2 separate regions of the Homo sapiens genome follow, and region 2 is linked to region 1. The links come from fine-mapping of genetic effects on gene expression. A gene starts in region 1. The other region holds a variant in brackets. All regions are shown on one strand. Distances are between the middles of the regions. Region 1 holds the start of ICAM2 (intercellular adhesion molecule 2). Region 2 overlaps ERN1 (endoplasmic reticulum to nucleus signaling 1).

Region 1 (5,000 bases):
GCCTCTGAATGGTCTAATTTGTGACTTTGCTAAGCCAGAAGTTTCAATGTGCTGTGAGGCTGGCCCGTGGGAGCAAGATCCTCTGCTCGTGGGTGAGCCTAGCTGGCTGCCCGCCACCCACCTCTGCACCCAGTGTTCATACTTTCTGCTTGTTTGTACAAAGTCACTCTTCTAGAGTAATTGTTGTAAAATTGCTAGGCAAGGTGGCAGGTCTGATAAGATTTGATGAAGTGATAGGTCTTAGTCACTAATAAGAGGCTTTTTTGGAATGGTGTGTCACAGCCAAGGAAGCCTCAGCTCTGTGATCTTCGCCTGCCTCACTTGGGGGACCAGAAGGTAGCTTGTCCTGGAACTGCCTCATTCACAGAAGGCCCCAGTGAGTACAGAAACTGCACATCAAAGGGAGGAGTAAGGAAAACAGGATGGCAAATCTTCAAAAATTAAACAAAATTACTTTTTTTTTTTTTTGTAGCGATGGGGTCTCACTTTGTCACCCAGGCTGGTCTTGAAGTCCTAGACTCAAGCAATCCTCCCACCTCAGCCTCCCAAAGTGCCGGATTTACAAGTGTGAGCCACCAAGCCCAGTCAGAATTACCACTAAAAAAAAAAAAGAAAAAAGGTTAAGATGGTAGATTTTGTTGTGTATATTTTACCATTATGATCCAGCATTTCCACTTCTGGGTACATACCCCAGAGAACTGAAAGCAGAGTCTTGAGCAGGTATTTGTACAACCCTGTTTGTAGCAGCACTATTCACAATAGCCAAAGGTGGAAGCAACACAGGTGTCCATCAGTATATGAATGCATGAACAGAATGCGGCACACACGCACAATAGGATATTGCTCAGCCTTCAAAAGGAAGGCAGTTCTGGCCAAGCGTGGTGGTTCATGCCTGTAATACCAGCACTTTGGGAGGCTGAGGTGGGCGGATCATTTGAGGTCAGGAGTTCGAGACCAGCCTGGCCGACATGATGAAACCCCATCTCTACTAAAAATACAAAAATTAGCCAGTCGGCACGTGCCTGTAATCCCAGCTACTCAAGAGGCTGAGGCAAGGCCAGGCACGGTGGCTCATGCCTGTAATCCCAACACTTTGGGAGGCCAAGGCGGGCGGATTGCCTGAGCTCAAGAGTTTGAGACCAGCCTAGGCAACATGGTGAAACCCCATCTCTGCTAAAATACAAAAGAAATTAACCAGGCGTGGTGGCGTGCACCTGTAGTCCCAGCTACTCAGGAGGCTGAGGCAGGAGAATTGCTTGAACTCGGGAGGCGGAGGTTGCAGTGAGCCGAGATCACACCACTGCACTCCAGCACTCCAGCCTGGGCGACAGAGTGAGGCTCCATCTCTACAAAACAAACAAACAAACAAACAACAACAACAACAACAAAAACACTGAGGCAAGAGAATCGTTTGAACCTGGGAGGCAGAGGTTACAGTGAGCCAAGATCACACCACTGCACTCCAGCCTGGGCAACAGAGCGAAACTCCATCTCAAAAAAAAAAAAAGAAAGAAAAGAGAAAGAGAGAGCTCCAGAGATGGATGGTGGTGATGGTTGCAGAACAATGTGAATGTACTTAGTGCCCCAAACTGTACACTTAAACATAATTAAAATGGGCCTAGCACGGTGGCTCATTCCCAGCATTTGGGAGGCTGAGGTGGGAGGATTGCTTGAGCTCAAGAGTTTGAGACCAGGCTGGGCAACATAAGCAACACTCTGTCTCTACAAAAACTACAGAAATTAGCCAAGCCTGGTGGCTGCACACTTGTAGTCCCAGTCACTTGGGAAGTTGAGGAGGGAGGGTCACTTGAGCTCAGGGGTCAGAGGTTGCCACGAACTGTGATTGTGCCACTGCACTCCAGCCTAGGTGACAAAAGCAAGACTCTGTCTTAAAAACAACACAACAAAAAATTGGCTGGACGCAGTGGCTCTTGCCTGTAATCCTAGCACTTTAGGAGGCCGAGGAAGGCAGTTCACTTGAGGTCAGGAGTTCGAGACCAGCCTGGCCAACATGGTGAAACCCTGTCTCTACTAAAAATACAAAAATTAGCCAGGCGTGGTGGCAGGTGCCTGTGGTCCCGGTTACTCTGCGGGCTGAGGCACAAGAATCACGTGAACTCGGGAGGCAGAGGTTGCAGTGAGCCGAGATCACACCACTGCACTCCAGCCTGGGTGACTGAGACTCAGTCTAAAAAAAAAAAAAAAATTGAAATGGTAAATTCTGTTGTGTACGTTTTACCACAATTAAAAAAAAAAAAAGCGGAATGGGAGTGGAGCTAAATGAGGCTAGTTTAGGGTGGGAACCGGGGCACAGGAAGCACGTCACTTCTGGTGGGGAGTGGGGGGAGGGAGAAGACTGAATAAGCCGTGAACTGGGCAGCTGTGACACGCGCACCTTGTCACCTTGTCACCAATTTCCTGCCCGGGATCCCAGAGCTACCCTTCTTGGAGCCCACAGGGGTAAGGTTGAGCTTCTCACTTTCCCTCCAATGAAGCGTGGCAGCATGGGAAGGATTTTGGCAGTGTCGAGGTCTGAGTTTTAGTCCGTTCCCCTCTCTGGGTCTCAGTTTCTCGCTGGTAAGTGCAGGGGTTGGGGAATCCCCAGCGCTCCTGTGGCTCGACATTCTGCACTCTGTGAAGCTCCTGCCCTGCCCTGCTGGGTCTCTGAGCTCACGCACTTGCCCTGGCGCTCCTTTCCTGATTTGTCTCCCCTCTCTCCTTCCTCTGCTCTGCCATCTCGGTGGCCGATGTAGAAATGTGGGGCTGCCTCCTTATTTAGGGGCCCACGTGGGCTGTGATCTGGACCATCTGAGCTGATGCAGAGGGGAAGGGACAGTCCCTGTTCTCCCCGGCAGGCGTGGTGGGTTCATAATGAATCTCAGTCACTCACTTCCTACCTGCCTCGGTTCGAGGGGGTCTTTCCTAACCCATGGCTCACATTCCCATGAAGCCTCTTCTTTCTAGGCACGTAGAAAGGCCCTTTTTCCCTTTTATTATTTTTGTAAAATTTACTAGGTAACGCATAAAAAGCTTATGTAACATACATATACATCATACTGCACAGTAATATACCAAACACACCTGAAGCTGCCACTCAGCACAAGGATGGAGTATCACCAAACTGCAAACACCACTTATCTGCTTTTTTTTTTTTTTTTTTTTTTTGAGACAGAGTTTTCATTCTTGTCGCCCAGGCTGGAGTGCAGTGGCACAATCTTGGCTCACCACAACCTTCGCCTGCTGGGTTCAAGCGATTCTCTTGTCTCAGCCTCCCAAGTAGCTGGGACTACAGGTGCGCATGCCACCATGCCCAGCTAATTTTTGTGTTTTTGGTAGCGACAGGGTTTCACTATGTTGGCCAGGAGAGTCTCGATCTCTTGACCTCATGATCCGCCCACCTCGGCCTCCCAAAATGCTGGGATTACAGGCGTGAGCCACCACACCTGGCCACCACTTGTCCACTTTTATGCTACTTGCCTCCCACCCACAGGTAGCCACCCTCTGGAATTTTGTGTTTATTGTTCTCTTATTTTTAAGTGCTTTATTACATATGCATCTCTATTTATTTATTTATTTATTTATTTACTGAGATGGGGTCACACTATATTTCCCAGGCTGGAGTGCAGTGGCTATTCACAGGCATGATCATAGCACACTACAACCTCGAACTCCTGGGATCCAGTGATCTTCCCACCTCAGCCTCCTGATTAGTTGGGACTACAGTCTTGAACTGCTGCACCTGGCTATGCCTATTTATTTTTATTTTATGAAACAGTTATATAGCGTTACTGTGTGCTAGGCACTGTTCTAAATGCTTTAAAATATTTACTTATTTTATTTGTTTAATCTGCACAAAAACCCTATGAGGAAGATACTATTATTGATTCCTTTTTGCAGATGAGGAAATTGAGGCACAGAAAGATTAAGTGATTTGCTCAAGGTCACACAGATAGTGAGAAGTAAGGCCGGGAGCAGTGGCTCATGCCTGTAATCCCAGCACTTTGGGAGGCCAAGGCAGGAGGATCATGAGGTCAAGAGATAGAGACGGTCCTGGCCAACAAGATGAAACCCCATCTCTACTAAAAATACAAAAATTAGCTGGGTGTGGTGGCGTACGCCTGTAGTTTCAGCTATTCGGGAGACTGAGGCAGGAGAATAGCTCGAACCCGGGAGGTGGAGGTTGCAGTAAGCCAAGATCGCGCCACTGCACTCCAGCCTGGGCGACACAACGAGACCCCGTCTCAAAAAAAAAAAAAAAAAAAAAAAAAAGAGAAGTAAACACAAAGACATGTCTGGTTCTTAGTGTGACAGCGTTTCTAGGGCATACATCTAAGAATGGAACTGTGAGTTACAGGGTATAAGAATATTCCGTTTACAAGATAATGCCTAATTATCTCTGAGAGCACCAATATACACTCTCATCAGCAGTTAGAAGGGTGCCTATTAACCTACGGCCTCTCCAACAATTGGTCTTGTCATATTTCTTAACTTTTGCCAACCTAATACATATAAAATAGTATCGGTCCCATTGTAATTTTAATTTTAATTTCCCTGGCTACTCGAGCTAAATAATCTTTTCACTTGTTTAGACATGTTTCCTTTTCTTTGAAATGTTTCTTTGTGTCTTTTTTTTTTTTTTTTTTTTTTTTGAGATAGAGTCTCACTCTGTCACCCAGGCTGGAATGCAGTGTCGCGATCTCAGCTCACTGCAAGCTCCGCCTCCTAGGTTCACGCCATTCTCCTGCCTCAGCCTCCCGAGTAGCTGGGACTACAGGTGCCCGCCACCATGCCTGGCTAATTTTTTTGTATTTTCAGTAGCGATGGGGTTTCACCATGTTGGCCAGGATGGTCTCGATCTTCTGACCGCGTGATCAGCCCGCCTCGGCCTCCCAAAGTGCTGGCGTCACAGCCGCACCCGACCTGTTTCTTTGTATCTTAGTCAAAGATACCAATTGTTGATTTTATGATTGACAATTTCGAGGTCTTGCCCCAAGGATATG
Region 2 (5,262 bases), 65 kb before region 1:
AGACTTCATCTCTGCTCTTTGGGTCCTTAAATACCTTTCAAAAGGTATTTTGAATACCAACCCAGAACATTTAAAATCACTGCTAGGGTTACACTTAGAAGGGACTGGTTTGGGGACTTTCTAACTGTGTGGTAATATCTTAGTTGTGCAGAAGAGAGAGCTGATTTCCATTGCTGCGTTATGGGGGTCAGAAGGGTGGTCAGATGGGGTCAGAAAGAACAAGGTGGAGGAGGGCAGTAAAGCCAGAGGTCATCTAGAGTCCAACGGAAAAGCAAAAGCAGGGTGTTCCAGAAATATCCGTGCTCATCTGGGAAAGATAAGAGAAGGATCTTGCAAGGCTCCTTGAGCTCCAGTTAAGTGAGCAACCTGTTCTTGTGGCTTCTGTAATCAAAGGGATCTTACTTCTTCCTACATGGAAGGAAGTCTGCCCAGAGCTACCTCCAGAGAGAGGCCGTCAATCTCGAAGTCTGGTTTGAAACAATTATTTAAATTTTGGTTGATTGCATCAAAGACATTTTTCTGTTCAGCTGACTTATCACCCCATGTTTTCCCCAGGCCCTCACGAATTTTGCCAGCCCTGCATTTAGGGAAGCCTGGGATGGTCCTGACAGGGTCCTTCATGCTCTTAACTTGGGTTTCCCTTCAGTCTCTCTGTGCCCTGTGCAACTGGAAGAGCAGGCTCTTCAGAATTATGCCACAGGTGAGAGCAGGAGGAACAGGCCATTCTCTCCAACCTATTGCAGATGTTTGCCTTAAATAGCTTCTGTTTTTAGCTTTTTTTTTAACTTTTCATTTTATAAAAACTTTATACATACCCCAAAGTAAGAAGAGTAGTATCATGAAACCATGTACCCAGCACCCAGCTTCAATAATTATCAATGCGGGGTAATCCCTGTCCCTCTCCCTTAAATACTTTTCAAAAGGGCCAACCCAAAACATTTACAGTCACTGCTAGAGGTACACTTAAAAGGGACTGGTTTGGGGACTTCCTGAGTTTCTAGGTTGTGTGACTGGGTGGAAGTGGGACCCACTAGCCAATCTGGGGAATGTGAACTGAGGAGCAGGTCCTGGGGGTATGGCCTTGGGCTGAGACACCCATAGCAGTTGCAAGTGGGACTGGGTCAGGAGTCCAAGGGAGAACATCCTCAGATGCCATGCGGAGGATTTGCAAGTGTTGGTTTTGATCACGGGAACTTGACAGTGGCAGTTCTGATCTTATTCTGAGGGTAGGGGCCGGAGGGCAGTGAGTGGAGGAAGGTAAGAAGGCAGGAAGGTGGAACAGAGGATTCGGAGCAGTGTAGTTTCCCCACATGGCTCAATCACCCAGCTTGGGTTATAAAGGCAAATTCCTTGTCTCTACCTACAAAGCCAGCTTCCTGGGGGAAGAACCTAGGAATCAACATTCTAAAAATTCCATAGGAATCTCTAATACATTGCTGGTGGAAATATAAAACAGTACTACCAGTTTTGCAAACTGTTTGTCAATTTTTTGTCAGAGGTAAACAATATGATGCAGCCAGTCCCCCTCCTTGTTTTAAGAAATGAAAATAGGCTGGGCACACACCTATAATCCCAGCACTTTGGGAGGCCACGGCGGGTGAATCACGAGGTCAGGAATTCAAGACCAGCCTGACCAATAGGTGAAACCCCATCTCTACTACAAATACAAAAATTAGCTGGGTGTGGTGGCACACGCCTGTAGTCCCAGCTACTCGGTAGGCTGAGGCAGGAGAGTCACTTGAACTCAGGAGGTGGAGGTTGCAGGTTGCTGAGATTGTGCCACTGCACTCCAGCCTGGGCGACAGAGCGAGACTCCATCTCAAAAAAAAAAAAAAAAAAAAAAAAAAAGGAAAGAAAAGAAAAAAAAAGAAATGAAAATAGGTCCAAATAAACACTCGTACACAAATGTTCACAGAAGCTTTATTCACACCAGCCAAGAAAATAAAAACAACTCAAATGTCCCTCAGCAGGTAAATAGGTAAACAGATTGTGGTAAATTCTTATAGTAGAATACTATTTGGTAATAAAAAAGAGCGAACTATGATACATACAACAATATGGATGAATTTCCAAGACATTATGTGAGATAAAGAGGCCAGGCACAAATGAGTATCTATGACGTGGTCATTTGTGAAATTTTAGAACAAACAAAATGAACTGGTACTTATCTGGAGCAAGATTTGGAAATACTGAATCCAAAGGGATGTGAAAAAATGTTTTAGGGTGATGGAAATGTTCTGTATCTTGATGGTGAAGATAGTTACATGGGTGTGTGTTTTTCAAGATTGATTGAACTGTAAACTTAAAATGGTTGCACTTTGGAGGAAAAGGAGAGTGTGCAGAAGAGCAGGCAGAGCCAAGAGGTTTTTGTGTTTATAGGCAAAGGAGGAGTTGAAGATCCTTGGAGACAGGATCTAGATGTGAGTGTGAAAAATCTATGAGTGTGAAGACAAAAGCATTGTCCCTTTATAGAGATGTGAAGGGAAGGGTGGAGCTGGGCAAA[T/G]GTAGAAGACAAAGGGTAGGAAGTTTCAGCAAGCTCACTCAGTCTCCCTTAATATCCCCTATGACACAGAAGGCAGAGTCATTTGTGGAGAGACAGGGACCTTGAGGCAAGGAGTAGTTTGAAATATCAGCTACAGGGGTGAGAACAGAAGCCAGCCAGGATCTCCTAGTGGCAGGGGCCTAGCTGGCCACACCATGGAGATACCACGTATCATGGTATCTCCACTAATGATCGCAGTGTTTTCTACAGCTGTGCTCAGAAGGCTGGGTGGAGGAACAGGGACTGCTATGCAGATCCTGGGTTCAGGGTGAGTAGAGCTTATCTGCTGGATTATTAAAAGTGATCAACAATGGATTTCCAGGCTGGCCAAGAGTGGAAGTAGGAAAGAAACTGCGCTAGTTTGAATATTTGACCCTCCAAACCTCATGTTGAAATTTGATTCCCAGTGATGGAGGTGGAGCCTAATGGGAAGTGTTTGGGTCTTGGGGGTGGATCCCTCATGAATGGCTTGGCGCTGTCCTCATTGTAGTGAGTGAATCCTCACCCTATTAATTCCTGTGAGAGATGGTTCTTAAAAAGAGCCTGGCACCTTCTCCCCTCTCGCTGCTTCTCTCGCCCTGTGAGCTCTGTACACTCCGGTTCCCCTTTGCCTTCTGCCACTAGTGGAAGCAGCCAGAAGCCCTCATCAGAGGCAAATGCTAATGCCATGCTTCTTGTACAGCCTGCAGAAACGTGAGCCAAATAAACCTCTTTTCTTTATAAATTACCCAGCCTCAGGTATTCCTTTATAGGAACACAAACAGACTAAGACAGGAAATGACACTTAATTACTCCATTCAGCAAATACGTTGGTTACCACCTGTGTGTCAGGTATTGTTTTAGATCCTTGGGAAGATGCAGACAACAAAAAATAAATCCCAACCCTCCGTGGCCAGAGTTGGGCATTAAGTAAGCAATAAAATATACAGAACTACAGAGGTGGTAAGTGACATGGAGAAAAATTAAGCAGGGAAGAAGGGTTGGAAATCCTGGGCAGTAGGAGGTGATCATGGAAGACCGCTCTGAGGTGGCAACAGTTGATCAAAGACCTAGGCAGAGGAACAGCCAGTGCAAAGGTCCTGAGGCATGGGCAGGCCTGGCAGTGCTTGTTGAATACTTGGAGGCCGGCATGGCTGGAATGGAGTGTGTGGGAAATAGTGGGAGATTGTTAAAGGGTGACAGGTTGAAAGGGAGGGACTGCTTGGGATTTATGAACCACTGTGTAAACACTGGCCTTCACTGAGTGAGATGGGGAACCACCAAAGGATTTTGAGTCACAGAGAAGCTTAATCTGATTTATGCCTTTAAAAGGATCACTCTTCTCAGTGTCAAGGCATTGACTTATAGTCTTGACAAACATTTAATCCACATAGAGATGCCCCATGAGGTTGATGTTATCTCTATTTTTTTTTTCCTTACTGATGAGGAAATTGAGGCTCCACGAGCTTAAGTAACTTTGCCAAGGTCACTCAGCTGGTGATTGGCAGAGCCAGGATTTATGCCTTGGTTTGTCTGATTCCAAAGTCCACACAGATTAAGAGAGGAGGGAAGGCTTGAGAGACAAAGGGTTCCTATGGTGTTGAAGGGAATGGGAACAGGACACAGAATTATGGTTGGCATCGAAACAGACCACAGAGTTTGGCAACTGATAGCATGTGTTAGGGAGAAATAGACATCAACAGTGTCGTTTGAGTCATGGCTTTCTTCTAGGAGAATGGTGGTACTGTTAATAAAATACGGTAGTCAGGAGTAGAAGCCAGTCTCAGGCAAAAGACAGAGGGCGTGACTTGGGCAAGCAGAGGCTGAGGCGTTGGTGGGAAGTAGTGGGCGTGTCCAGTTGATCCAGAGAAAGGACCCGGGAGAGGGGAGCCTAGAACCCCACTGTGGTTAGGGTGGAAGTTATAGAGAGGCATGTGCTCTCTGAGTGAGAAGAAAGGCTGAAGGGAGAAGCTGGCAATGTTCCTCCCTGTGTGGAGGAGGGAGTGGGGACAAAAATTCACTGCTTTTGGGGACAGAAATGTTTAAAACTTTACCCTTATGAACTTGGACAAAGGAAAGATGTGGACGTCTGTTTTGTTATTTGAGCTTAAAGAAGTGATTTAGATTAGCCTAGCAATGAGCATCTTGTGACCTCACCCAGGATGTCAGTTCCTGCAGGTGTAAAACTTGTGCCATTCCAGGCCTCAGCTGGACACACGATGGGGGCCGGGGAGTGGAGTTGAGGCCAGTGGCTGCTCCCAGGGGATCAGTGAGCAGGTTTGTTTCTTTCCCGTGTTAATCCTGGGAGACCAAACCTTGATTTCAGCTATATTTTCCCTCTACCTTTACCAGATAACCTTACCTTTACCTTACATAACAGCCACTTTTTATATTTGTGAAGTAACTCCCCCACAACTTTTTTTTTCTGAAAGTAAAACAACTTGGTGACATTGGCTTTTATTCTTATCGGGCCCCATATAGATAGTGGCTTATTTTACAGCAGTATTTGTTTACATCCCTACAGGTAGGACAGTGTTTCTTTTCACATGGCTGAAAACTTTTTTTTTTAAAGCAAGAATCTTACCTGATATCAGTTCTCATTATTAAATCAAAACCACTTTTTCATGTTACTCTTTTAGTGCACATTTTCAGATAATGCTCTTTTTATTTTTGCTGACTTTCCAAAGATAATTTTCTCTTTAACCTTTTTTAATATGAAAAAATTTAACCATATGTACAGA

Evidence for each region. PIP is the estimated chance that this variant, and not a neighbour inherited with it, causes the effect.
Region 2: its variant is fine-mapped to the expression of ICAM2 in whole blood (TOPMed, PIP above 0.99).

The regions. Positions count from the first base shown.
Region 1 is chr17:64,017,983-64,022,982 of GRCh38, reverse strand. It overlaps ICAM2 (intercellular adhesion molecule 2), which reads left to right and starts at 2,350. Exons shown (of 5, transcript NM_001099789.2): 1 at 2,350-2,460. RefSeq lists enhancers at 1,911-1,960, 2,181-2,270, 2,016-2,516, 2,611-2,730.
Region 2 is chr17:64,083,224-64,088,485 of GRCh38, reverse strand. The region is part of intron 2 of ERN1 (endoplasmic reticulum to nucleus signaling 1); the gene reads left to right. Among named protein-coding and RNA genes, the nearest start is that of ERN1, 44 kb to the left of the region's middle. The variant T/G (reference allele first, on the strand shown) is at 2,504.